Linked DNA regions of Homo sapiens. The main gene of each other region encodes a partner of the protein of the gene in region 3 in a complex. Each region holds a gene or a part of one and is shown on either strand. Other genes may lie near its edges.

Evidence for each region.
Region 1: CC2D2A (region 3) and B9D1 share a complex: the UniProt entries of both Homo sapiens proteins name them as parts of the tectonic-like complex.
Region 2: CC2D2A (region 3) and TMEM67 share a complex: the UniProt entries of both Homo sapiens proteins name them as parts of the tectonic-like complex.
Region 4: CC2D2A (region 3) and MKS1 share a complex: the UniProt entries of both Homo sapiens proteins name them as parts of the tectonic-like complex.

Annotation. Positions count from the first base shown.
Region 1 is NC_000017.11:19,359,717-19,367,026, reverse strand, and holds the start of B9D1 (B9 domain-containing protein 1), read left to right. Parts: upstream 1-4,303; 5' UTR 4,304-4,457; coding exon 4,458-4,520; intron 4,521-6,638; coding exon 6,639-6,707; intron 6,708-7,310. UniProt on the Homo sapiens protein: Component of the tectonic-like complex, a complex localized at the transition zone of primary cilia and acting as a barrier that prevents diffusion of transmembrane proteins between the cilia and plasma membranes.
Region 2 is NC_000008.11:93,792,869-93,799,893, forward strand, and holds part of TMEM67 (meckelin isoform 1 precursor), read left to right. Parts: intron 1-329; coding exon 330-428; intron 429-2,540; coding exon 2,541-2,639; intron 2,640-3,032; coding exon 3,033-3,119; intron 3,120-4,265; coding exon 4,266-4,365; intron 4,366-4,462; coding exon 4,463-4,602; intron 4,603-6,749; coding exon 6,750-6,890; intron 6,891-7,025. UniProt on the Homo sapiens protein: Required for ciliary structure and function. Part of the tectonic-like complex which is required for tissue-specific ciliogenesis and may regulate ciliary membrane composition.
Region 3 is NC_000004.12:15,465,476-15,472,905, forward strand, and holds the start of CC2D2A (coiled-coil and C2 domain-containing protein 2A), read left to right. Parts: upstream 1-4,406; 5' UTR 4,407-4,582; intron 4,583-7,430. UniProt on the Homo sapiens protein: Component of the tectonic-like complex, a complex localized at the transition zone of primary cilia and acting as a barrier that prevents diffusion of transmembrane proteins between the cilia and plasma membranes.
Region 4 is NC_000017.11:58,216,256-58,223,187, reverse strand, and holds the start of MKS1 (tectonic-like complex member MKS1), read left to right. Parts: upstream 1-3,932; 5' UTR 3,933-3,957; coding exon 3,958-4,037; intron 4,038-4,458; coding exon 4,459-4,568; intron 4,569-6,442; coding exon of another isoform or gene 6,443-6,451; coding exon 6,452-6,522; intron 6,523-6,932. UniProt on the Homo sapiens protein: Component of the tectonic-like complex, a complex localized at the transition zone of primary cilia and acting as a barrier that prevents diffusion of transmembrane proteins between the cilia and plasma membranes.

The DNA.
Region 1 (7,310 bases), on a different chromosome or scaffold from region 3:
ACATGTCTCGTGACCGCCCTAGACATGGCTTCTGTTTATGTGCCTCTATTAAATGCTTCTTTCTGAGAAACCAGATTTGTCTGCCTCTCTCTTTGGCCTCTCAGCCCCTGTAGCTTCTGGTTTGCATGGACCTGCCCACCTAGAACCGCAGGCATACAGTACTTCAAGCCTGAGGGGAAGGGTGAGGTGAGGCCCAAGGAATCGTCAGGGACAGGCCACAAAGGGTATTGACTTTGCACCATTTGTGAAATTCAGCCGAGTGCCTGCACCAGGCATTTCAAGCAACCGGTGTTCCAAGTGTGGCCCCTCCGCTGAAGAGCCAAGAGGCAAAGACAGAAGGAAAGACCTATAAGGCCTTTGAGAGAAATGATTTGGGGACTTGGAGTCACAGGGACCCTGATTTGAATCCCAACTCTGCTTCCAACTCACTGTGATCTTGGGAAGTCGGTTTGTCTCTGAGCCTCGACTTCCCCATCTGTAAAAGGGGGCTAGGAGCACTGGTCTGGGGGGTCACTGTGAGGAGCCCAGAATCACAGGGGCTCAGGACTTCGTGGGGGTGTAAAGAGAGGGCACATGGGATTATTATTGTTACTGTTGGTCTCAGCCAGCTGCCCTCTCTGCCTCTTACCTGAGACGGGGCAGAGCAGGACTCTAAGAAGTCCCCTGCCCCAGGACCCAGGACAAGCTCCTGGGAGGAGGATCTGGAGACCCCAGCGCCAAGTCTGTATGCAGGATGCCTGCCCCTAGTGTGCACCCCAGGGCTCCCCACCCCTTGAAGGTGCTGAGGGTGGACCCCGATGACCAGGGCAGAGCAGATGGAGGGCTGTCCTCAAGGAGGCCCAGCTTCCTTAGAGATGAGTGAGCTCCCTGTCTAAAGAGAAAAGCAAGCAGAGCCGGACACCCACTTATAATGAGCTTCTGGGTGGGAAGTGGGGAGCAGACTGTGGGGCCAAGGGGAGAGGCGTTCAAGGAAGACTTCACAAGAGTGGGCTCTGAAGGCTACATAGGAGTTCTCTGGGCGGATAGGTAGGAGATGATGAGCTAGGTAGAAGGAACAGCATGTGCAAACCAGGAGGCATGAAAAAGCAGGAGCACCCCAGGAATGACTTCAGCAACAAGAATAGCTGCAATGTATACACCTACTATGTGCCCATAAACTTTTTAATTAAAAAAAAAAAAAGAATAGCTACAAATGTATGGAACTTTGACATATATTATCACATTTAATCCTCACAACAACCCCCTGGGTGTGATGAGGAAACCGAGGCTCCGAGAGGTTAAAGGACTTTCCCTGAGTCACATAGGATTCCACTGCAGGCAGTCTGATTTTGAGCTGGAGGGGTGAGGGGTGGAAGCTGGGCTGCAGAGATCGCAGGGCTGGATGGAAAGAGATGCATGGTAGACCTGCAAGGCCCTGGGACCCGGAGCTGAGCTCTGAGGCTTCAGTCTCCTGAGGTGCAGGGTCCAGGCTGGCTGAGGCCTCCAGCAAGAAGGGCCCAGACAAATGGCTTGGCCAGGCCAGCATCTTCCTGGACACCTGGTGCCGCTGTGAGGGGGCCCTCATCTCCCAAGAGTGGGTGCTCACAGGCGCCAACTGCTTTGACAGGTGGGTGCACAGCCAGGAGGGGTGGTGGAGAGGGGCTCCAGGAGGGTGGCCCCCAGCCTCTCCAGCTCTCCACCTCCCCTTCACCTCCTCTCTCCACAGTTGGCCTTGGTCCCACTTCAGTGTGACCTTGGGTCCAGATCGACTGCAGATGGACTCTTGTGAGATCAGGTTACCATGGGGGAGCTGCTCTTGTCCTCAGCAGGGCCCGAGGGCTCTGGGTTTGGTAGCCTGGTCCTGGCACAACTGGCAAGGGGCAAGGCCTCCGTCGCTCACCAGCGCTGTGCAGGCCGTCCCCCTGGCCACTCAATCCCACTGTTCCCTCTTCCTGAGACAGCTCTGCTGGGGCCAGGGGTTTGAACCCGATTTCAGTAAGGATGGGAGCAGAAGCCTGGGATGGTTGAGAGACTGGGGGAGGCAGATGGCCAGGGTGGAGCTTGGGACCCTGCAGGGGCTCTGGCCAGCTGCCCGGCAGCACCATGGCCATAGGCATGCAGGGAAGAGGGCTGGCGCTGACACCTGCTCTGCTCAAGCCAGCTTCCAGCCTCACCCCTGCCCAATGGCTGACAGCCCCGCCTGCCCAATGTGCTGGAAGCTTCCCTGAGGGGACTGCGTGGGAGTGTACCAGAGGACAGAGCTGTACTAAGAGTGAGGTGGGAGCGAGGAATGTCTAGGAGCCCAGGAAGGCATCTGGGGGTGGAGAGACTTGGCACAGGCACAGGCAGGGAAGCTCAGCAATATATGTTAACAACCAGCATGGCTGGACTGGTGCAGATCGGCTGGATGTCAGCTGGGCTGAGGGTCTGCCCCACCCCATTGCAGATCCCTACATCCCACCCCAAGAGCTGCAGAGTGTCCTGCTGAGATCGCTGTGTGTCAGCATCTGCAGAAACTACCTTCTCCTCCAACCTGACTGTCCTGACCTGAAGGACAGCCTGCCCAAGGACTTCTAGTACACCAGGCTCTCCACTGGGCCCTTGAACTGGTGGTAAGGATTCCAGCAGGCCCTATGCAAGCCCCTATGCAAGCCCCTGAGACCCCTCTCCTAAAGTCGCTTCTAATGCCACTAGACTTGTTAAAGTTAGGCCTGGTCACCCTCCCATCCTATCCTGGAGTCTTCCATTCCCCAACACCCAGGGGTCGGGCTTATTTGTACCCCTGAAGGCCACCCTAGAACTTCCCACCCCTTGGGGAGACTCCCCCATTATGTCCTATTTGAATGTGGGGCCACCTTTGGTATAGCCAGGTCTTAAACTACTGGGAGCCCCCAGTTATTCGATAACTACAAGCATTTTGCTGAAAACTAACTTGTGTGCAACACCGAGCCTCAAAGGCCAAAGGGAGGAAATAATTGGGTGAGACTGATAGAATGTGTGGGAGAAAGCACTTTAACTGGAAAGAGATGGACAGAGCGGGGGAAGAAGGGAGTATGACCCCCTCTCCAGGAGGGGAAATGGGCCCTGTCTTGGGCTCTGGGTGCAGCACTTGGGCCACCAGCCCACCCATCCCCTCCCCCAGCTGCTCTTGTCAGATGTGTGAACTGGTTACCCGCTGCCTCCCTCCCCTGATCAAATATCTTTGCTCACTAGGCAGGGGGTGGTTCAGTGGGTGCAGGCTGGGCTGAGACTGCTCCTTCCCTCCCTCGTGCAGATGGTTGATGGGACTCCCCTAGTCTGCTCCCAAGCTAGAAGCTGCAGAATGTGATGACCTGGGGTCCCTGCTCGGAGCCTGGCCTCCCGGGAGTCTACACACCTGTGAATCCCTTCATTTCCTGGATCCAAGATAATGTCTCCAACGTCTCCTTTGACACCTCTGCCAACAGATGCTGTTGGGGCTGGCCCAGGACAAGACAGAGGCAGTGAGGGTTGTTAGCCTCTGGAGTCCTGGGTTTGAATCCTGACTTAGCTACTTACCTGCCTTTGCCATCTGAATCTGTTTCCTCCTCTGTAAAATGGAGATGTCTTCAATTATTCATTTATCAACAAGTTAGTAGTTACCAAGTGCTTACTCTGTGACAGGCCACTAAGATACAAGACTGTATCTTGACAGATTCGTGGATTTTGGCTAGCAACTCCCCTGAGCGCTGGCTGATTGGGGTGCCAGGCGCCGCCCGCTGCGGGCCTCAGTTTCCCCAGCTTCGAACTAAAGAGCGATGGCTTGGATGTAAGGATTCTTGAGGTCCCTCCCAAGTTTGTTTAATAAACTTTTTCGAGGGCAAGCGTCTCCAAGCCACAGGGGCGCATCCTTTTCACCTGCTTGGACGCTGCTTGGCCCCAGCTGGGGAGGCTCCTCCGAGCACCCGGCATTCCAGAGTTAGCCCCGACAGCTGTGGTCACGTCGCCCGTGCTCTGCAGCGCCTCCCTCCGCGTCCTCGCGGTGGGGCCACAGCGACATCTAGTGGCTGAATGTATTTTAAACACTCGGCTTGCTGAGGGCGTGAGTCGGAGCGCTGCTCCCCAGGACTCAGCTCTCATTCGCCTCTGCGCTTCGGCGGGGACGGGGAGCCGGGCCGAGTCAGAGTGAACACACACTCCCTGCGCGTGCAACTGAGTCGAGCGGTAGGGCTGGCTTTACCCGACAGGTCAACGCTCCCGCCCCAGCTCTCGGTCATACCTGCCCTAAGGAGGGGTGGAGCCTCGGCGTGGATCCCCGCCCCTTGTGCCCCGCCCCCTTATAACGGCGCCCGTTCACTGCGCCTGCGCATGCCACACGCGCACTCGCGTGGCCTTCGCGAAGGTGTCGCTGCCAAGAAACGTGTCCTGCGCGCTACGCCGTCTGTTTCTAGGGCAACGCCGGCGTCTCTTAGCAACCGCGCGCGGCCTAGGTGGGTCCCCCCGGCACCCCCAGACCTGCCATGGCGACCGCGAGTCCTAGCGTCTTTCTACTCATGGTCAACGGGCAGGTGGAGAGCGCCCAGGTGAGCGGCCGTGGACCCCGCCGGGGCCCGCCCCCCAGCGTCCCCCGGGGCCCTTCCCGCAACCCCCCGGGCTGCCCTGTGGCCCCCGGAGAGCCACGTCATTCCTCTGAGCCTCTCGGTTAGGCGGGGGAGGGGAGCCAGCATTGGAGAGCTTGGCGCGAGGTTGCCCGGATCCTGAGTCCCGATGTGCAGGAATAGAAGCAGACCTCGAGATGTTGAGCTAGTACCGAGGTCACACTCGGGCAAGCCTGTGGGCCCTCGCACGGGTCATGCCCACTTGCTTGGATCACTGGCAGGAGCCTCCTGGGGTTAACGCGAGGAGCCGAGGCTTGGCCGAGTTTCCAGCATTTGCGCTGTGTCCCGTGTGGAGTTACTGTCCCGCGTTCTGAATCCCCAGATCCTTGAACTCGGGTTCGAATCCAACCATCCAACAATGGTGGTGGCCTGGAATTGACCCAAGGAAGGTGTGCCTGCTAGGCCCGAGGGACGCTATTCCCCATCCCCCTACACTTTAGAGGAATCATTTATTGTAAATATAAACCAACGCTCACCAAGTCCTCAATATGTCCCAAAGTCGGTGCTCCGCACTGGTCCACCCTTACAGCCTTACCAGATAGGCACTACTAACACCCCCATTTTACAGCTGGGGAAATATACCAAAGGAACTGGCCTGTCTGGGAATTGAACCCACGCCTATCTGACCTCAAAGCTTCACTACACTGTCCTTCCAGGCTGTTGGAGGTGGTGTTTATTATTATTTTATAATATTATTGTGAGGATTGACTGAGACGGTTTGGGTAAGGCTCTGACAGGGCCTGATGCTTTGTAGGTGTCTCCTGCCTTCCTATTTCATCAGGGATACTACTCCATGCTCCCACCCTGTCCGCCTCTGCCTTAGCCTAGTGCCTAAGACCGTCTTTCCCCACTCTCCTGTCCTTTCCTATTAGGGGCTCTCGGCTGGGCTGAGTCACATGTGTCTGTGCTCTCAGCATCAGCGACCCCCCCGCCACACACACACTGACAGTCACACTGTTCCTCCCTGCTCTGCTCTCAGCACCTCCCTCTTTTCAGGGCCTCAGCTCCAGCCTTGCATATGATGGCTTCCTGGGTTCTCAGACCTTTCACTTCAGCACCATTCCCTTACACCAGTGGTCCTCAACCTTTTTGGCACCAGGGACTGGTTTTGTGGAAAACCAGGTGGCGAGGGATGGTTTTGGGATGATTTGGGGACATTACATTTATTGTGCACTTTATTTCTATTATTACCTTGTAAATAATAATGAAATAATTATACAACTCACCATAATGTAGAATCAGTGGGAGCCCTGAGTTTGCTTTCCTGCAACTAGATGGTCCCATCTGGGTGTGATGGGAGACAGTGACAGATCATCATGCGTTAGATTCTCATAAGGAACATGCAACCTAGATCCCCCACATGTGCAGTTCACAGTAGGGTTCGTGCTCCTATGAGAATCTAATGCCGCCACTGATCTGACAAGGAGGTGGAGCTCCCGTGGTCATGCGAGCAATGGGGAGCAGCTGTAAATACAGTTGAAGCTTTGCTTGCTCGCCTGCTCCTCACCTCTTGCTGTGTGGACCCGTTCCTAACAGGCCACGGACTGGTTGAGGACCCCTGCCTTAGACCTTATCTGTGCCCAGCCCTGTGCCAGGCAGTGGGGACACAGAAAGGCATTAAATCTCTTCTCTACTCATGGTCTAGAGGAACTGACAGACTTAGACACAGGCAATCATTGCTTTTATGGAGGGAAGCACGGGGCTAAGGGAGCCAAGAGGAGACCTTAAACCAGCTTGAGAGTTAGAGCAGGCTCCCTGAAGGGTAAGTTTTGAAGGGTGAGCAGGAGTTTTCCGGATGAAGTAGGAAGGACAAATCAGACAAGGCAGAGCCTGAGCAAAAGCCAGGGGCCGTGGCACCTGGGAGTCTCCCGTGGACTCCCGCTTCTTGGTCCTCAGCCTCTCCTCTGAACACATCTCCAGCCGTCTCTTAGACCCACTCCCAGGTGTCTCACGTTCAGAATTCCCCTTGGCTGCACCTGCCTAGCAAATGCATTGGCCTCAGCATGAATACCAGTCGACAGAATCTGTCTGTGCTTTTTTCAGTTTCCAGAGTATGATGACCTCTACTGCAAGTACTGCTTTGTGTACGGCCAGGACTGGGCCCCCACAGCGGTAAGCTGGACTCTTGGGCCTCCCTTACCGCCTTCATGACTTTTGGGGTTTCTGAAGGTGTCATATCCTTCCCCTCCCCATTCAGAACAAGTTAAGAGGTAGAGACTGAGTTCAGGGGAACCCAAACATGAGTGTTCCTGGTAAAGCGGGAGCAGAGGACACAGCCATGGTTGGACTCCCTGATCCATCCACCAAGACTGCACTCAGAAGCCCTACCCTGTGAGCTTCCCCGGGGCAGCAAAGAGCAACACCTGCAGTAGGAGGCAGGCCCCAGTGAGCCAGCCTGGACGTGGCTGAGCTGTGGACACTCTGGCCAGTCCGCTCACCATTTGGCCTCTCCTCAGCCAGTGGGGAGGACCTGGAGTAAAAAGACAGAGTAGGAGCTCTCCTTCCAGGACTTCCCAAGGGGTAGCTTGCCTCCACCAGGTGAGGGACTGTGGTGACAACTTCAGCCCGCTCTGTGCTCTGCTGTTTGCAAAGCACTTGTTTCATCTTCATAGCAGTTTAAGAAAAGGAGACTGAACTTATTTAAGCTCTCTGAGCCTCAGTTTCCTCATTTGTACAACTGAGATGATAATCCTTCTTTTCCCTTTATTGATTGTC
Region 2 (7,025 bases), on a different chromosome or scaffold from region 3:
TTCATGCCATTCTCCTGCCTCAGCCTCCCCAGTAGCTGGGACTACAGGCACCCACCACCATGCCCAGCTAATTTTTTGTATTTTTAGTAGAGACGGGTTTCACCGTGTTAGCCAGGATGGTCTTGATCTCCTGACCTCATGATCCGCCTGCCTCGGCCTCCCAAAGTGCTGGGATTACAGGTGTGAGCCACTGTGCCCGGCTGACTCCTGTGTCCTTTCAACATTTCCCACCCCACCATTTTTTTGAGCACTTCCTTACTTGTTCACAGTGTTTTTGAACACCGATGACAGAAATTACATAAATTCTCAATTGTTCTTTTGTTTTTTAGATTGCTTTGGGTGTATTGGGTGGGCTAGCTGTTTTAGCATCTCTTTTGAAGACAGCAGGATGGAAGAGGCGCATTGGGAGTCCCATGATTGATTTACAGGTATAATCTCAGGAGTTTTTTAAGAATATTTTTATCTTTTGACCATTCTGGATCCTTCTCATAAGACACAGCTAGAGAATAAGTAAAAAAGTTGCATTGAATTTTTCTGGGATATGTAATTAGGGTAAGTATTGCTGGGTCATATGGTATATGTGTACCTCATTTTCTTCCCACCATACTGTATGCCAGTCTATATTCCCACCAGCAATGCTCTTCTTATTTCTGCACATACTTGGCAACACTTGATATTTTTCCAACCTTTTCATTTTTTGCCAACCTCATGGCATATAGTAGTATGTCATTGTTGATTTCATTTTCATTTCTCTGTACTCTTCATATACATTTTAATCGTTTGGGTTTCTCCTTCTGTGAACTGCCTGTTTATATCCCTTGCCCATTTCTCTATTATGTTTCCAGTTTTTATTGTTTATTTGAAGAATTTTTTTTTGTATTTTCTAAATAGTAACCCCTTTTTGGTTTCTGATGTTGAAATATATGACCAAATAAATATGTGACCCATCCGTTATTTTTATCCATGTAGTCCTTTGTTTAACAGAAACTTTCAGGTTTGTTTTTGTTTTCATTTTTGTTTTTTTTTGTTGTTGTTTTTTTGAGACGGAGTCTCACTCTGTCGCTGAGGCTGGAGTGCAGAGGCACAATCTTGGTTCACTTGCAACCTCTGCCTCCCGGGTTCAAGCAATTCTCCTGCCTCAGCCTCCTGAGTAGCTGGAATTACAGGCGCACACCACCATGCCTGGCTAATTTTTGTATTTTTAGTAGAGACGGGGTTTCACCATGTTGTTCAGGCTGGTCTTGAACTCCTGGCCTCATGATCCGCCCACCTCAGCCTCCCAAAGTGCTGGGATTACAGGCATGAGCCACCACGCCTGGCCAGAAACTTTTGGTTTTGATATCATCATATCTGAATATTTTTTTTCATGTTATGATACGTGCTTTTGGGATCTTGTTTAGGAAAACCGTCCCTATATCAAGATCACAAAGATAGTCCACATTTTATTCTATTAACTTTATACTTTCACTTCATGGTTAACCTTTTATTTTTATTAAACATTTAAAAAATATTTACCATGTACCAGGCACTTTTTAAAGCTTTATGTATGTAATTTTCTGAATCCGCACAGTAGCTCTTTGAAGTTAGGTTATTATTATTATTTGCGTTTTACACGTGATGAAATTGAGGTAAAGGTTAAATTTTCTACTCACTTGATTTTTGCAACTCAGTAATAGGTATTTCCGTTTTGTTGATGAAGAACATGAGAAAGGTTACATGGTAGCTTTAACCAAAGTATCTTTCTGATTCCAAAGCCAGTGGGCTAAGGAATCAGCAGGGGTACTTGATTTACTACTTGGGATAGTCCAGAAAGGCTTCCCAGAGAAATGAACTTTAAGTGGGATTATCTGTTCATTCTATAATAGTCACTGAGGCTCTATTGTCTAAGTGTCTGGCACTCTACCAGGAGCTGGAGAATGTGTTAGTGAGCAAAGACAGACATAGTCTGTGCTCTCAGAAATCATGAGAACTTACCAGAGAGGGGAAGAGAAGAATATTTGGTAAAACAATGCCCATTTTATTCCAGAAAGTATTTGAGATGAACGTATGGAGTGGTTAGTCATTGACTACATGGCTGGAACTGGCAGATGAGGCTAAAAAGTTAATTTTGGCCCATATTGTGAAAGACCTTGTGGATCAGGAATTTATATTGCAATGAGGAGTTGTTCATTTTTAACAAGGGGAGTGACACAATCCAATTTACATCTTAGAAAACTAACTCTGGTGGTAGTGTGGAGGAGAGATTAGAGGGGAGGATTCCCAACTAAGAGAAAATTAGGAAGCAGTTCAATTTTCTTAGATAGTGAAAGATGAGAAGAGTTGAAAGAAGAGGCTACCAGGAACGGCCAGAAAGGTAAGGAGCCAAAAGGTAGCAAGGAGGAGGAAGCAGGTGGTCTTTATAGCTGGATCATATGGGGATATGTGAAACAAGGCTTCAGGCTTAAGAAATGGAGTGGATGATGTATAAAAGTGGTAGTGTTACTAAAAGTGGTATATACATGGAGTCTTAAACAGCTGTAATTCTTTTTTTTAAATTGCAGACAGTTGTGAAATTCTTGGTGTACTATGCTGGTGATCTGGCCAATGTTTTCTTTATCATCACAGTGGGAACAGGTCTTTACTGGCTTATTTTCTTCAAAGTGAGTGAGTTTCTGAATTTTCCCCAACTGCCAATATCTGAATAGTTGAAAAGCTTTCTTTATAAAGGAACTATTTTTATTTGAGAGAATTTTTGATCAACAGTATTAAGAAAAGTTCCCAACTCCCCATTCCTTGAGTGTGCTGAGCTTATCGATTACATCACTATCTTCCTCTTTTATGCTTTCTTTGGTTTATAAATTGTGCTTAGTAAAAACCTTGTTCAATTGGAAGACTTAGGTGGGAGGATCCTGTGAGTCCAGAATCAAGTCCTGCCCGGGCAGCATACTGAGACCCTCCTTTCCCAAAAAAAAACAAAAACGAAAACAAAAAACAAACAAACAAACAAAAAAAACTGTGTGTGATAATATTTAATCAAGTAATTTTTATTATAGGCACAGAAGTCTGTGTCTGTTTTGCTGCCAATGCCAATTCAGGAAGAACGTTTTGTCACTTATGTTGGATGTGCCTTTGCTCTGAAGGTAAGTTTTAAAGGACAGGTTACCAAATTTAAAAGGCCTGCTAATGAACTAACAAGTCTTTAAAATTAAAATGCTTTCAAAAATCTTTGGCGTGAAATTCACTTTGGTTTTGAAAGAAAGCATTAATTATTTTATGTGGTAAATTTACTTTTATTTATAGTAGATGCTCAGTCTGAAACTCTGCCTTAAATATTTTTTTCAAAGAAGCCATGAATTTGTATGGCTTATTTGATAAAATGATATTTCAGTATATAACTTTCTTTAAAGTCTGATGATACATTCACAATGGGACAAAATGTCTTCAGGCATGAATTTTGTCTCCATTAATCAAGGGTAAAAGGTACCACTCTGGATAAAGTGTTGAGATCTTAAAAGTTGTTTTGTCTGTCTCCAGATTCCTTTGCTCCTTTCTTCCTATGGCCCCCCAATCCCCAACTCAGTGTTCTCCATCAATGTAGGTGAATCTCTTTATATGCCTGTTGGTAGTCCTTATCCTATTTTACTGTGAGTGTTAAGTGTCTGCTTTTTCCACTGACTGGGAGCTTCTTGAGGTGAAGTATCTCATACTTAGATTTTTATCCTTTATTTGATGAATAATGCAGCAACTAGAAAGAATGCCTCAGTTTAAACATATTGCTTGTATAAATAAGAAAGATGTGTTTCAACAGCACATTCTTTAAAAATCAGAAATCTGAATAGCAGAAATAGAAAAAAAAGACAGTAAGAGCATTCGAAAACTTTAATTAGGAAAAACAAACTATAGTTGAAAATATCTTTACTTATAAAGAAGTCAGCTGATCTACAAAACAAAGTGTGCTTCTAGAATCTTTGGGAAAGAGTCAATTATATAAGTCCCTATGTGAGGAGGAGGAAAAATGTCTCCTCTTTTCATATTCCTATTTTAAAGAAAGAAAGAAAAAGGGAAGGTAAATTAAGATGTATATGAAAATTCTGTGAATTTGATGATTCCAGGTTATCTGATGAGCTTCTAATGATTCCTTAGTGGTATTATAACTTCATGTGAATTCACTCATAAAATTATATGTTCTTGTGATAACAGTATGTTTCTTAAAGAGTCAATATTGGTTTTATAAGCAGACTTAACGCTGGTACTTTTTCAGGTGTTTTATTATATGTCATTCTCAGGCACTACAATTTTTGCATAAGCTCATATCCCAGATTACAATAGATGTATTCTTTATTGATTGGGAGCGACCTAAAGGAAAGGTTCTTAAAGCTGTTGAAGGTAACTGAAATAAAAAATATTTGTACCAAAATTCTTTTGCTACCCTTGCAGAGCAAAGGAGGTAAAACTCTTTTACTCATTTTATTTTCCTGACCAGGTGAGGGTGGTGTACGAAGTGCCACTGTTCCTGTAAGCATATGGAGAACATATTTTGTAGCAAATGAATGGAATGAAATTCAGACTGTGAGAAAAATTAATTCACTCTTTCAAGTACTTACTGTCCTCTTCTTTTTGGAGGTATAAACTGTTTGATGTGATTATATGCGACTTACATGTACCTTATAAATATTAAACTAATATAATTCCAACTAAGTTTTCATGACAGTGGAAGATTTCTCTAAAGGTTGAAATATTGTTGTGAAGCCATTAAAAAGGAGTACCTTTATGTTACGTATTTTACCACAATTCTTTTTTTAAGTTTACCATCTTAAGCATTTTTAAGTGTAGAGTTTAATAGTGTTAAGTTGGCCAGGCACAGTGGCTCATGCCTGTAATCCCAACACTTTGGGAGGCTGAGGCAGGCGGATCACCTGAGGTTGGAAGTTCAAGACCAGCCTGGCCAACATGGAGAAACCCCGTCTCTACCAAAAAATACAAAATTAGCTGGGCATGGCGGCACATGCCTATAATCCCAGCTGCTCGGGAGGCTGAGGCAGGAGAATTGCTTGAACCCGGGAGGCGGAGGTTACAGTGAGCCGAGATTGCACCATTGAACTCCAGCCTGGGCAGAAAGAGCAAAACTCCATCTCAGAAAAAAACAAACAAACAAAAAGTAGTGTTACGTACATTCACATTGCCACGCAAAATCATCATCACCATTCATCTTAGAACTCTTCATCTTGCAAAACTGAAACTCTATACCCCTTAAACAACTCTGTACCCATTCCCTGCTACACCTAACCCCAGGCAACCACCATTCTATAATACTTTCTGTCTCTGTGTGTTTGACTGCTCTAGGTGTAAGGAGTAGCTTTAAAACCACTGGTTTGTATCAGAATCCCTTGGGGATCTTTTGTAAAATACCTATGCTCAGGCTCACCCTTAGAGACTATGTGTTGATTTAGTAGCTTTGAGGTAACTCCAGGTATCTATATTTTGAAAAAGCTCCCTACCCCCGATCCATATTCTCCCCTGCATTAGAATCACTATTATAAGTTTGATATTTTTCAACAAATTTGTATTGAACACTTACTGTAGACTATGTTCTGTGCTAAGAGCTGGGGCTACACTGAACAAAACACAACATGTTTGTGATACATATGCAGTTATTTCATGGATTTGGTTGGAATTATTAAAGGAAGTATTCAGTACTGAGTATAAGACTGAACATGGAAACAGTTTATATGGGAATAGGTTTTCTCAGGAATTATCTGCTTAATTAAGATTGAATATAAATCATTAACTCTTAGGTCTGTCTGTCTGCCTTCCCTCTTTTTTCTTCTTTCTTTCCATTCTCTTTCCCCTTTCCCTTCCTTTCCTTTTATAAAACTAGTAGAAGAATGTTTGTATCCCTAGGGCTTTAAAATAATATGAACAAGACTTCCAAAGTTCACTTGAAGTGGTATTTTGGTTTTTCTTAAATGGACAGATAAAAATTACATATGTTTATAGTTTACAATACAGTGTTTTGATATATGTATTCATTGTGGAATGGCTAAATCAAGCTAGTTTATCTGTTACCTCACATCTTTTCTTTTTGTACTAAAGTAGTGTGTGTGTGTGTGTGTGTGTGTGTGTGTGTGTGTGTGTGTTTAAGAGTTTCCTCAGCTTTAAAAGGTGTTATGTGAAAAAGTTTTATGGTCAAGTAAGTTTGGAAAATATTGGATTCAGTATAATCATGTAGCACCTTTTACTGTAAAACTTCTCAGAGCCTTTATTCTACAAGGGTGGGAGGCATGGAGGTGAGTGTAATGGATGGACCAAAAGTATTTAAACATAGATTCTTTTTTCAAGAACTTATGTCCTTTAGAAGACATTTTGTAATATACTGTTTTAAAGTATAAAAATGTTTAGTACAGTGCCTGGCACATGTCAAATACTCATGAAATACTACTTGTTGGTTTCACTCATTGGTAGTTTACTGATGAAAGTTTTATCCTTTTAATTAAATTTTTAGTCTTGTCAGTGTGTATGACAATAAGGTTATATTTGGCCCTTAGTCATATTGAGAAGAATGCCAAATGAGCTAACTAAATATTGTGTAATAAATACTTTGTAGTTAAAATACTATATAATAATTATTTTTATCTAGATTTTCTACTGTTTATACAAACTTAGATATTTTAGTTTTTCAAGGTGAGTAGGGAGAGGTTTTCTGTTTTCAGTCTAGAGTAGTTTTCTTTATCCATGTCCGTTTAAATTACTACTTTTCCTTTTTACTCCAGGTTGTGGGATTCAAGAACTTAGCATTAATGGACTCATCTTCTAGTCTTTCTAGAAACCCACCTAGCTACATAGCTCCTTATAGCTGCATTTTGAGATATGCAGTGTCTGCTGCTCTTTGGCTAGCCATTGGAATTATACAGGTAAGGAATTATACAGGTAATATTACTTCTAAGTAACATTGCTTCTTTATAACTCTGCCTAATTACTGATTATCATCAAATATTGACCACATCCTTCTTTCTGTAGCAGAAAGAAGGTGACAAGAACAATAGCTA
Region 3 (7,430 bases):
TCCTAAAATGAGACAAGAACAATACAAGGCTGATCTCAGCTAAGAACATAAATGCAAAAATTTCTAGAAAGTGGTAATTAAATCCAATATTAATTTTTGAAGTATCTTGACAAAATTGAGTGTATCCCAGGAATGCAAGCACAATTTGACATTAAAATGCCTGATAATGCAATTCTCTACACTAATAGATGAAAGAATAAAAATAATATTTAATTATCTCAAAAGATGTAGAAAAAAGCTTGTGATAATGTGATTCAACATTTATTCTTGATGAAAAACTCTTTAGCCAACTAGGAACACTTAACCAAAAGAATGAGATTTTTGTGTTATGATTTAAAATAAATTTGCTAGATTCATTTATTTTGCTTACATAAGAACTTTTGCAAGTAATGGTGTTTTGCAATGATACTTTTTAATATTTTTGGAACTTAAGAAGTTGTATGATTCTTATGAATTAGTTCAGTATTAAAGATCAAAGAGGACGTGCCCAGCTAGCTCTGTTGGCAGACCATGAGACTTTTAAAATATCAGGGAGGTAATAATCAGACGGTTAATTAGCAAAAGAGTGGTGAACAAGTCCTTCCTCTCATGGCAGCTGACCATTTCAAGTAGATAATCTCTTACGGTAAACATTCATATTTTTCTTCACTTAATAAACCTTGCAACATTTACTATGTGCCAGGACTGTCCTAAGTGCTTCACAATTATTAACTTAACAAATTTCCTAACAACTCTCTCTGGAATAGTTACTATTATTAAACCTCAGTTTCCTACAGAGAAGGAAACTGAAACCTAGAAAGGTTAAGAAAGTTGACCGAGATCCCTCAGTTGTAAGACAGAGCATTCAACTTCTTTCTCTCTCCTCTCCTTCTGGTACTGTACTGGATATGGTGGACCTCATCAATTTCTCCCTGTATCTTTTACCTACTCTTTCCTATTTTCAATATCTCTGTGCCACATTTCAATTTTTTAAACCTATCTTTTGCATCTCTTCAGCTCTCTCATCTACAGTTTAGCACATTCTTTGACTTTTATCTAAATTTGTGACTGTATTATTTATTTCTAAAAGTTCTATCTGGTTACTTTTTGAATTTGTCTGATCTTTTTGATAGTGTCTCACTCTTCTTTCATATTTTCAAATCCTCCTTGTATCTTCTTGAATATTTGGTCATTGTTATTTTTCCACTCTCCATCTGATTATTGTATTGCAAGAAACTCTTGAGTATCTAATAGTGTCCTCTGGTTTGTCTGTGGACTCTTGAGTGTTTCTCTTCTGTTGTCTAATTTTGGGTTGTGAGCTCATCTTCCTCTGTGTTTATTTGTGGACATCCTGAATTGTCCAATTGAAGGTGTGTTCCTCCAGAAAAGTTTTGTAATAACTTCTGCCTGGCACCCCACGGGGATACAGTAGACAGAGGCCACTTTTTAAAAGTTATCACTTAGGGGCCTCCTAAAATATATAAGGAGCATAAATAAGACAAACTGCATGGTGCAAACCAATGGTTGTAAATTCTTCATATTTTTCTCACCACATGCAGAATACAAGCCAAGACAGACAAGTTTTCTTATTGTCTTCTTTTACCAGCACGAGATAGTAGATTGTCCCCTTCAATTGGAAAATACATTATTTCATACAGTTGTTCTTGTATTACTCCTTTGGTAAATTATACTTTTCCATTTTCATGGTTCTCTCTTTTTATAACTACAAGCATTAAATTTCCTAGCCTGAGATCCTTTAATGTTTTTTGTAATGCTTTTCTGTAAGGGCAATATGCTAGCTTTGTCATTGGAGGATCCAGAAATGTCAGTATGTAGGGTCTGTGCTTTATAATCATTCAGTTTTTCCAGAAAATAATTTTCTACTTTCTCCAGTTTTGTGCAGGTAGAGGTAGGATGGGGGAGCCAATGGCATGTTCTTGATTGTCTAAGTTCTTGAGAAAGGTTCAGAAAGGGCCCTGCAACATCTTCATTTCATATACAGTTTTCAATCCTGAGACACACTCACTTGCTGCAGTACCTGGGAACTTGAGACCAGAGAGTCTCTGGTTTAACTTCCCTAGAAAAGAAACCGCCAGTCTCCTTTGGGCAGCAGCAGATGAGGCAGATGTGGAGGACGGAAATTATGCCTGAGGAATGGGCATTTTTCAGGCTGCCAAGAAAAAGGATCCTGAGGATCAATCCCTTAATATACAGACTTTCAAATCTTCCTGCATTTTTAGCCCCGTATCTCTCCCCACCTTCCTTAGTCTATGGTTGTATTAGTTTCCTGATGCTGTTGTAACAAAGTACCACACACTGAGTGGCTTAAACAGCAGAAATTTTCTAACAATTCAGGAGACTAGAAATTTGAAATCAAGGTGTGGCAGGGTTGATTCTTTGTGAAGCTTCAAGAGACAGTCTGTTCCAGGCCTCTCTCCTGGCTGCTGATAGCCTTGAGTGTTCCCTGGCTTGGAGATGGTGCTCTCCCCATGTCTTCACGTTGCCTTTCTTCTATTTTGTCTGTCTCTGAATCCAAATTTCCCCTTTTGTAAGGACGCAATCATCTTGGATTAGATCTCACTCTAATGACTTCATTTTAATGTGATTACCTCTGTAAATACCCTATCTCCAAATAAGGTCCCATTCTGAGATACTGAGGTTAGGACTTCAGCATCTTTGGGGATGAGAGAGAACACAATTCAGCTATAACACTGCTGCCCCAAATCCTGGCACAGTAAATCAGCTCATTTCCTCATATTCATGCCTACGTGCACACCCCATCATACACAGACACACACACACATACATACACGTACAGAGACACAAACACAAATACATTGACACATACACATGCATGCAGGCTGTGTCAAAAAATGTACTCTGGATTTGTTTTAATTAGGTATGGTAAGACACACAGACACAAACATGATTGGCACAAAAGAAGAAGTTTATACTTAACAGATCCCTAGAAACAAGAAGCATGGTGTCTTGGTTCGTTTTCTGTTGTTGTAACAGAATACACAGACTGGGCAATTTATAATGAACAGAAATTTATTTTTCACAGTTCTGGTGGCTGGGAAGTCCAAGATCAAGGGGCTGGCATCCTGCAAGGGTCTTCTTGCTGCACCATCCTATGGTGCAAGGCAAGAAAACATGAGAGCAAGAAAGAGAAAGAGAGAAAACGAGGCCAAATTCATTCTTTTATAAGGAATCCACTCCTGCAATAATGGCATTAATGCATTTATGAGGGCAGAGCCCTACAGCCTAATTGCCTCTCATTAGGTGCCACCTCCCGACACCATTGTGTTAGGGATTAAGTTTCCAATACATGCTTTTGGGAAGACACATTCAAATCATAGAACATGGCATGCCACACAGGACCACATAGGGAAGAACCAATGTTGGTCAGAAGGCAGAACGGAGACAGCAGAGTACAGCACAGAGCCTTTACTAGGGTTTTCCCAGGAAGGAATAGGTGAAGCAGGGTAGGGTGCTGCATAAATTTAGGAGTGGATAGCTTGAATAATCGTGGTGTTCTCTGGGCTATAGTGGTCTGGTATCTGGACCTGGGGTGACTTAGGACAGGAGGAATATTGGCTTAGTGTGTGAGAGTTTGATAATGGAGATGGTTGTGTGGGCTCTGGATTGGTTGGCTTGTATATCAAAGGAGACTTTGCATATTTCAGGGGAATCATTTGCTATCTCTAGAAATTAGCTAACATAGGAGAATCAGTTTCTCCAGGATCAAGGCTCCAAATGCCAGAGCATCAAGAATACAGAAAATAAGAAGATACAGTCAATACACATACACACAAACATACACACACCATACACACAGACACAAATACACACAAACACATGTGCACATACACACTAGTCTATTGGAGTGTGTTTCCTTGGCTCCATTCATTCTATTACTCTTCCAGCTACTTTGCCTCCTACCTCTCCCTCTTTTTTTTTTTCCAACTTTTTTGAGCCATAACATTTATATCCGTTTTCAGGAATTGCAGTGGGATTCAGAGAATAGGCAAAGATTAAACTTGTGCGTTCAACCTTCCACTTTTAACTGGAAAACACTCAAGTGCAACATTTGTTGGTACTCTGCAGCACCTCCACAGAGCTTTTGCTGCTGCCACGTTAGACAGCTTCACCATGTAATGACGACCTTTTAAGATTCTAAATCCCCCCACCTCTGAGCCTGTTCTTCATTGGAAATGCAAGACGACCGGATGACATGAGGGAGGGGCAGCTCTTAAGGCTTGACCTAATTTCCAGTGCTGCTCATGTTGATTTCTCTCCGTCCTTCTACTGCAGGCTGTGCGTCTCTGCTTACCCAGCATGCTTGTACTCCACTACTGGAAGTAGCCTGTCACTTTAAAGGAAAAAAAAAAAAGCTACCGAGTGACCTTCCTTAGGAACGGGTTGCTAAGCTGGTGTTTTTGCTCCAAGACATGGCTGCAGCTTCCCAGGGAGGAGCCCAGGGGCATCTCCAACACTCAGCCTTTCCCTCCGGACCCTTTTAAAAGATTCAACAGCACCGTCTCTCTCCACTTCCATCCTAGAATGCAGAATCTGCAAAGTGCCTTTTGTAAAGTTTCTTAAGGTAAATCAGTCCCTAACCGGACTTTAGGCTGCAACAGTGATTTCCTGTTTTCAGTTACCCGGCTTGAAGTTCAGCCTCTCCAGGATACCGTGAGACTGGATTTAATGAATTGTAAATTTAGGGGCTCTCATCGTTATTTATGTTTTTACTTTCTGAAATGGGAACATAGACCATTACTTGGCAGCTTTGATTTGAGCTGCTATCTGGTATCTGGTTTGCAGGAAATGTAAGTCCAGTTCATCACAAGTCCTGAGTGAAAATGCTCTCTGACCAAAGCTCTGTGAAACATTAGCTGCGTGTTGCATTTATGGGCCTTTTAGTTCAAACTGGCTTAAGGGGAGAAGCACTAATTACTGCAAAATACACTTTTCTTGGTATGAGACAGAGAAAGGGCTACTAACCACAGTGCTAAGAGTTGCTGTGCTTTCCAAAGACTTCAAGAAAATGTACTGGCTACAACTTAAGCTGATTGTTTGTTTCCCTTCATTGCAAAGAGGTGGTATGAAAAGCTAATAAAGTCAAATAAGAAATATGTTTGCTACTGCATTTTCATATAACCTTTTCTGCAAATAAATTCAGCACCAGCATGAAATCTCTCTCTCTCTCTCTCTCTCTCTCTCTCTCTCTCTCTCTATATATATATATATATATATATATATATATATATATATATATATCCTAGAGCTCACTTATAGAGTCATTCATTCAAACATTTATGGAGCATCAACAATGCACCAGGCAATGAATTTAAGTTTAGAGTGTGCAAACATAAATTAGACTAGGTCAGAAGCTCAGAATTTGCTGGGAAAACAGACCTATAAACACATGATAAGAGTACAATGAGCTAAGTGCCATAAGAGATTTATAAAAACACTGAGAGGACAGTGGGATGACATCCAGGGAGGGGCTTCCAGTACTTAGCACATCATGTAAATGCACTGGTCATATATCACGTAACACAGCTCAAATATGGTACTCATGTGTACTCTTCAAGGCCAGTGTACATTATATCGAGCTGATTAAATGATTCTATAAAGCTATTGGTCACTAACCTTATGCTAAGGGAAACTGCAGCTGGAATAACTTGTAGAATAAGATAATGTATTCCAAAACAATGTATGTGGCACCTCCCCAGGTGTCCAAGCTCCAGGAGGGAACAGAAAAATGTTCTCAGGGTGTGAGGAAGAAAATACTCATGGGTAGAAGTGCAGGAGGTTTCAGAAGCACCATAAATGGAAACAGCAAGGCAACTGCCCTGGGCCTGGCTGAAGGGAGGGAGACATGAAACATGAGTTATGGTAGCTGGGGGTTGAAGATTGGAGCTGAAGGTGGGTGGGCTTGAACATCACCTAAGGTCTTTCTCATGACTCCTCTTCTATCCCCCAAGCTCTTTTCCCTCCTCATTCCTTTTTTCCACTTTCCCTCCCCACAATCACTTTTTCTTAGTAACAAAACCTACCAATATTGAGAGCCCAGCCTGTGCTAGGCATTTTACTACACACATTTCATCATTTAGCCCTTATAAATTAATCATCCTTCAAGGTAGGAAGTATGATTGCAATGTTGCAGACAAAAAAAAAAAAAACGTGTCTCAGAGAAGGGAGGGCATTGTTCCAAGATCACACAGCTAATAAATAAAGCTGAAGTTGGAACTCAGGTCCACATATTCCTTGGCAAAGAAATATGTGGACCACTCTTCCTATAAACCCATGTTTTTGCCATCCTGGAGTAGGGCATATATATTGTATGATTTTTTAAGCAACCAATATGGAGTTGAGATGCGTTGTATCTCAACCTCCAGGTATGGCTCTGACCCACTGATGACTCTTAGGAATAGTCCATTTATTCAGATGAAGGTGTCAGTACTTTCCTTGAAAAAATATATCTGGTTTTCTGCACTGAGTAAAATAAATCATTGGCTTAATGTAGCCTAAGCCTTTTCTCACCAGTGCAATGCTTCACAGCTTTCAACTGTAAATATTTCCAGAATAGCCCACTATTCTGGAAAGCACAGAATAATTATTGATGCCATTGCAAAAGCAAGAATAAATGGTGAGATGGAGGGGTAGAGTGGAGTGAGGGAGGACTCAGGAATCACAGAGTCTTGGGATCAAGTTCTGAATGTGACATTTAATAATTATAACTTTGGAAAAATCATGTAAATTGTCAGAGCCTCAGTTTACTCATACGCAAATTGGGGCACATACTACTAAGCCAGACATGTTATTGTGAGGACTAAAGAGAACATGTCTATAGTTAGCACAAAATAAGTGTGCAGTAAATCATAGCTATTTTGATGTTGCCAGTAGGAATATATTAACAAGTACCAGTGCATAAGATGATGGCAAACTGCATATTAAAACCAGGCAGTATTGATTTATCTTTTCTTAGCAACAGTGTTCATATAAAAAATAAATTTCGGTGTCATTTGATTTCCTTAGAAACTCATTTAAAGGAAATGATCAGGAAAGAATGAGGAAAAAAGAAAATCCCATTACATTTTTCATTTTCTACTTCTATTTTTTTCTTCCATATAAAGCATTTATTAACTTATAGAGAACTTTTTTTAGTTACTAAAATGTTTCACAGGTTTTTTTTTTTTTTCAGTTTGCAATGACCAGAGTTGTTCATTAGAGAGCTCTCATGTACTTTTGCATTTCATCTTTATTATCTGCCCCCTCATTCACTCTAGGTTATCTCCTTGCCTCTCTATTTTCTTAGCTGCTTTTACATTTTCCTTCCTCTATTTTTTGTACCCTGTGATGAGGTTTGTAGAGAAGACAATAGAATTTCAGATGCTTTATTTCCCTTTAACATGCTAATTCCCCTGTAGGGTCAGTGAAACCTT
Region 4 (6,932 bases), on a different chromosome or scaffold from region 3:
TGATAGGCCATCTACGTACAGATCTATTTTGGACTCTTTTTTTTGTTTTTTGCTTTGAGACAGAGTCTTGCTGCGTCGCCAGGCTGGTGTGCAGTGGTGTGATCTCAGCTCACTGCAACCTCCACCTCCTGGGTTCAAGCGAGTCTCCTGCCTCAGCCTCTGGAGTAGCTGGGACTACAGGTGCATGCCGCCACGCCCAGTTAATTTTTGTATTTTTAGTAGAGACAGGGTTTCACCATGTTGGCAAGGATGGTTTCAATCTCCTAATCTCTTGATCTGCCCGCCTCAGCCTCCCAAAGTGCTGGGATTACAGGCGTGATCTTTTTCAAAATTCTTTTAACCATGTAACTCCTTTGCATTTCCATATAGATGTTAAGAGTCAGCTTGTCAATTCTACAAAGAAACCTGGTGGGATTTTTACTGAGATTTAGATCATCTTGAGGATAATTACCTTAATGATATAGATTTTTCCAATCCATGGACATGTTATAGTACTCTACTTTATCCAGGTCTTCATCTTACCAATGTTTTGACATTTTAAGTGTACAAGGCTTGCACATATTTTGTTAATTTTATGTTTTGTGCTTTTGGATGTTATTTTAAATGGCTGTGATTTTTAAAATTCAAGTTCAAATGGTTTGTTCCTAGTATATAGAAATACCATTGATTTTTGTATATTGACCTTGTATTCTATAACCCTATTAGTTCTGCTGGCATTTTTGTAGATTCTTTAGGATTGTTTAGGTTCATATTGTATGTAGATATACACAATTTTACTTCTTCCTTTTAAATTATGTTCACTGCAGCGTCGACCTCCTCGGCCCACATGATCCTCCCACCTCAGCCTCCCAAGTAGCTGGGGCCACAGGCATGCACCACCAAACCTGGCTAATTTTTAAATTTTTTATAAATAAAAAATATGTTGCCCCGGTGGGTCTAAACTCCTGGGTCTAAACTCCACTGTGTCTGGCCCAAGCCATTCTTGATATCATGGTACAAACTCCTTTGAGAATCTGATAAAAGCTATGAACTCTTTCTAGAAAAATCCCCCATTCAGAATTCTAGGGAAAGGATTCATAGACTTCTTGAATCCCACTCATGGATCTCAGTTTTAAGAATCCTGGTTCATGCAAATCAAGACCACGATGAGATACCATCTCACACCAGTCAGAATGGCAATTACTAAAACGTCAGGAAGCAATAGATGCTGGCGAGGCTGTGGAGAAATAGGAACACTTTTACACTGTTGGTGGGAATATAAATTAGTTCAACCATTGTGGAAGACAGTGTGCGGATTCCTCAAGGATCTAGAACCAGAAATATCATTTGACCCAGCAATCTCATTACTGGGTATATACCCAAAGAAATATAAGCCAGTCTACTATAAAGACACATGCACACGTATGTTTACTGGAGCACTAGTTACAATGTCAAAGACATGGTACCAACCCAAATGCCCATCAGTGATAGACTGGATAAAGAAAATGTGGTACATATACACCATGTAATACTATGCAGCCATAAAAAGGAATGAGATCATGTCCTTTGGAGGGACATGGATGAAGCTGGAAGCCATCATCCTCAGCAAACTAACACAGGAACAGAAAACCAAACACTGCATGTTGTCATTCATAAGTGGGAGTTGAACAATGAGAACACATGGACGCAGGGAGGGGAACACCACACACTGGGGCCTGTCGCAAAGTCTGGGGCAGGGGGAGGGAGAGCATTAGGACAAATAACTAATGCATTCAGGGCTTAAAATCTAGGTGATGGGTTGATAGGTGCAGCAAACCACCATGGCACATGTATACTTATGTAACAAACCTGCATGTTCTGTACATGTATTCCGGAATTTAAAGTAAAAAAAAAAAAAAGGACATTCTGACACATGCTACAATATGGATTAGGTATCTAAAACAGTCAAATTTCATAGAGAGAAAATGTAGAATGGTAGTTGCCAGGGGCTGGAAGAGGGGAATGAGGAGTTACTATTTAATGGGAACAGAGTTTCAATTTTCAAAAATAAGAAAGTAGTGGCGATGGATGGTGATGATGGTTGAAAAACAAGGTAAATGTACTTAAGACCAATAAGCTGAATATTTAAACATAAAAGGATCCTGATTCATAGAAATCAGTAAACAAAACATGAAAACTTAGTTTACCTATATAAAAATAATACTAATTATGGTTGCTTACACAAATAGCTTATATTTCCATAACGTGGTATAGAAACTATTTTGCATATAATTATGTCAGATTAACTTTGTTATAAGTTAGATTTGGTTATAAAATTAAACTAGAATCAGGCTCCACTTTATCAGCTGTTGTGCATGTGGCACAGATTGCCTACTCACAATTTTAAAAGGAAACATTGGAGAGACAATTTCTTAGGAGCTAGAAAGGTGCCTTTTGTTTTATGTTAAAATTATTTCCGGCCGGGCGCGGTGGCTCACGCCTGTAATCCCAGCACTTTGGGAGGCCGAGGCGGGCGGATCACGAGGTCAGGAGATCGAGACCATCCCGGCTAAAACGGTGAAACCCCGTCTCTACTAAAAATACAAAAAATTAGCCGGGCGTAGTGGCGGGCGCCTGTAGTCCCGGCTACTTGGGAGGCTGAGGCAGGAGAATGGCGTGAACCCGGGAGGCGGAGCTTGCAGTGAGCCGAGATCCCGCCACTGCACTCCAGCCTGGGCGACAGAGCGAGACTCCGTCTCAAAAAAAAAAAAAAAAAAATTATTATTTCCCAGGTTGGAAATGTGTGCGTTTATGGAATAAATTGGTAGGTGAGAGGCTGTGAGGCAAACTGGAAGGTGGTTAGGCTTCAAAAGACAGAAGAACTTGGGCTAGAATCCCAGTACTTTTACCACTTGCAAGCTAGCAAGTCCTTTAAACCCTGGCCTTCACGAACTTCATTTTTAAAGTGAATAAAAGTACCTTTTTGAGAGGCTTCTACAAGGATTTGGGACAATGCAAACAAAAGTGCTCAAGCTGCACTAGATCCTAAATAAATGGTGCTATTTATGGTGAGTCGGTGTTACACAACTAGTGGCTATGGCACCCAGAGCTTCCAATGCCAAATCATCAAACTGGCATGAGATTCCCGAGTTCAGGGGACAATTGCTTACTTTGTTGGAGGAGGACTAGATGTGAACAAGGCTGATAAATGTTGACATTCCCAAAGTGCCGGGACGCCAGACGTGAGGTTACAGCATGTCCTTCCTTTGCTAGTACAACGAAGCATGACTTGTGAATGTCACTTTTTTGGCTTTTCAGGAAGCCAGTGCAGTAACAAAGTGGCTTAATGATCCAAAACTAACATACACAAGGTAAGAATCAGTTCAATAATAACATCGTTTCCTTCCTTACTGTTGACTTCCTTGTTTTTTCTTTCTTTGCTCAGTGAATATCAACACAAAGACTAATAAATCTTCTGACACTTTTTTTGTCTTCCAAGAATATATTTTCTTGTCTGGCTAAGGGCCATCACCTTCCCTGACTCCTTTGGGAATAATGGGTGCATTTCTTACAGTCACATCACCCGATTTTCAGGCCAAAGTTTTCACGCGTTGGGTGGAAGGCAGTGTGGCATGGTGGAAAAGGTAGAGGGCGAAGACTCAGGCCACCTGGTCCCCGTCATCATTTCTGCATCTATCTGTCTATATGAAGTGGGCTGATGGCTGTGCCAGTTTCCTCATTTGCACAGCGCACGAGGTCCCGCTTTCGGTGAGCTTTTATCGCATACATGGTAAGCGGTGATCGGTAGGACCCCGGAGCCCTCTTGGGCGTTCGGCTTGGGCTGCACTTGCACTGTGTGGCCAACTGCGACCGTGGCGCCGTGACGGGAACGGCGGGTTGCGCGCGCAGCACCTCCGTCGCCTCCCGATCCAGCGTCTCCGTTGCCAGGAAAACAGAGCGGCGCGCTTTCCGGCGCAGTCGCGGCGCGTCGCAGCTGTCATGGCGGAGACCGTCTGGAGCACTGACACCGGGGAGGCAGTGTATCGCTCCCGGGACCCCGTGCGCAACTTGCGCCTCCGGTAGTCGCACCGCCCCAGCCCCGAGGCCCCATGCTTTTGTGTCCTTAGATCATTCCAACCTGAGCTCGGTGTTCTGAGGTCCCCACTTTCTGCTTACAATCCCGACCACTTCTCCGGGCTCCCCACTTCTTTCACTATCCGTACCCCCATCCACTCACAGCCTCTAAGAACCCCTTACAGACCTACCCAAGTCCATTCACGTCTTTGTTGCTCCCAGTTTCTCAAAGCCCTGTGCCCCCAGTACACCCTCTCCCCTTCATTCTTCCCCATAGGACGGCGCACCCACCCACCTCCTCTCCGTTGTCTGCACCCAGCACACCTTGGCAACCCTACCTCCTCTGTTTTGTTTCCCCCATCCTTGCTTTGTGTTCATCTCCTGGTTGCGTGTCTGGTAACGAATATTTTGGGCTTTTCTTGACAGAGTCCACCTGCAAAGAATCACATCAAGCAACTTTCTTCATTATCAGCCTGCTGCCGAGCTCGGGAAGGACCTCATAGACTTGGCCACTTTTAGGCCTCAGCCAACTGCCAGTGGGTGTTACGGTGGTGATGTGCCATCTAATACTAATTATGATACTAATCAGAATTGTGGCCAAATGTAGTGAGATAACAAATACTATACTTCTGATATGTTATAGAGTTGCCCGGCAACCTACATTCTATTTGTGGCTTTTTTTTTTTTTTTTTTTTTTTTTTTTTTTTTGAGACGGAGTCTTGCTCTTTCCCCCAGGCTGAAGTGCAGTGTCGCTATCTCCGCTCACTGCAAGCTCCGCCTCCCGGGTTCACGCGATTCTCCTGCCTCAGCCTCCCGAGTAGCTGGGACTACAGGCGCCCGCCACCACGCCCGGCTAATTTTTTGTATTTTCAGTAGAGGCGGGGTTTCACCGTGTTAGCCAGGATTGTCTCGATCTCCTGACCTCGTGATCCGCCCGCCTTGGCCTCCCAAAGTGCTGGGATTACAGGCGTGAGCCACCGCGCCCGTCCTATTTGTGGCATTTTTAAAAGAGAAAACGTGCCCCAAACCCTAAATACACATATAAACACTTTTAAAAACAATTTTTAAACTGGAGACTGCTTGCAAAATCTGCATATGATGTGCATGTATAGATCAACTGTGTTCTTGTGGTTTTCCTTATCTGGGAAACCAAAAGAATGAGGAGGAGAGGACAGAGTGGTTGTTGTCAGGTCACTAGTCTGTTTGCTTTTATTGTTTCTCTTTCTGTTCAGAGCTGTTCCTGGGCAAGAGTGTGGGCTCACAGGTTGTGAAACGTGTCTCTGAAAAAGGCATACCCAAGAGTGTATTAGATTAGATTTGTTTTCTTTGTTTTTGTTTTCGTTTTGTTTTGAGACAGAATCTCATTCTTCTGCTCAGGCTGGAGTGCAGTGGTATGATCATAGCTCACTGTAAACCTTGGTCTCCCAGGCTCAAGCCATCCTCCTGCCTCAGCCTCCCAACTAGCTGGGACTACAGACTCACACTCAGTTTATTTTTTTTTAAAGTTTTAGTAGAGAAAAGGTCTTGCTATGTTGTCCAGGCTGGTTTCAAATTCCTGGGCCCAAGTGATCCTCCCACCTTAGCCTCCCAAAATGTTGGGATTACAGGCGTGAGTCACTGCATTCAGCCAGATTTGGTTCTGTTAAAAAATCATTTATTTGCCTTCACTGTCCTCTCCTTACACTTGGTCTCCTAAATTTCAGTGTTTGTGATTCTACATATATGGCTTTAGAAATAGTAAAGATAAAAATGCCAGGGTTATTTTCTAGCAAATGCAGACAGTTGGGACTGAGGAAGGGCTGGCTATTCAGCTTATATCTAAATTTCAGTTTCTTATATCCAGTTAGATTAGATATTTCCTGGAGCGGGCTGAGCGCCGTGGCCCACGCCTGTAATCCCAGCACTTTGGGAGACCAAGGCAGGTGGATCACCTGAGGTCGGGAATTCAAGATCAGCCTGGCTAACATGGCAAAACTCCATCTCTACTGATAATACAAAAATTAGCTGGGTTGGTGGTGTGTGCCTGTAATCCCAGCTACTTGGGAGGCTGAGGCAGGAGAATCGCTTGAACCCAGGAAGAGGAGGTTGCAGTGAGCTGAAACAGTGCCACTGCACTCCAGCTTGGGTGACAGAGTGAGACTCCATCCCCCCCAGAAAAAAATTCCTGGGGGGTATTTTCTTTTATTCAAATTAGAGTCATGACTAAGACTTCCTGGGTTCTAATCTTGGCTTCTACTCATACTAACTCTCATATACAGCCTCTCTAGCATTTCTCTAGGTTGAGTGCTTACTAAATTGCTGAATTCCAGCTAGTTTTTGTGGCAAATATAAGAATAGGGACTTTGGTTATAATAAACCACAGAACAAGAAGTGGTGCTGGTTTGGCTCAAGCATTTGATTCACTCTGTTGTCTTTGGAGGTGGACACCGCCCAGAGGAAGACGAAGAGGAGGAGATTGTGATTGGGTGGCAGGAGAAGCTCTTTAGCCAGGTGAGCCAGTGTCTCTTGTCTTCTCTGTCTATTCCATCTGGTCTACCTCCACATGGCTGGTGATACATATTGCCAAAGTGATTTCCAGACAGGTTGTAACAGTTTATACTTTCCCCTGTTGTGTTTAAAGGGCATTGTAACATAGGGATTGCCACTACTCAGTTTTGTGATTCTGGGTGAGGAACTTTTCATCTCTGGGCTATATGCCATCTGTAATAGCAGACTTGGATTAGACTATCAGTCTGGTTCCTTTTAGCTCTAATGTTCTTGGTTCCCCTGCCATTCATTAGTTTAGTGTTGGTTATGAAAACATGTCAGATAGCATCAGTTCTGTAGAACTGATTTGATTAAACAGTTACAGAAGCAAAAGTTTGATGTATTATAATGATGTACACATCTCTGTTTCCTTA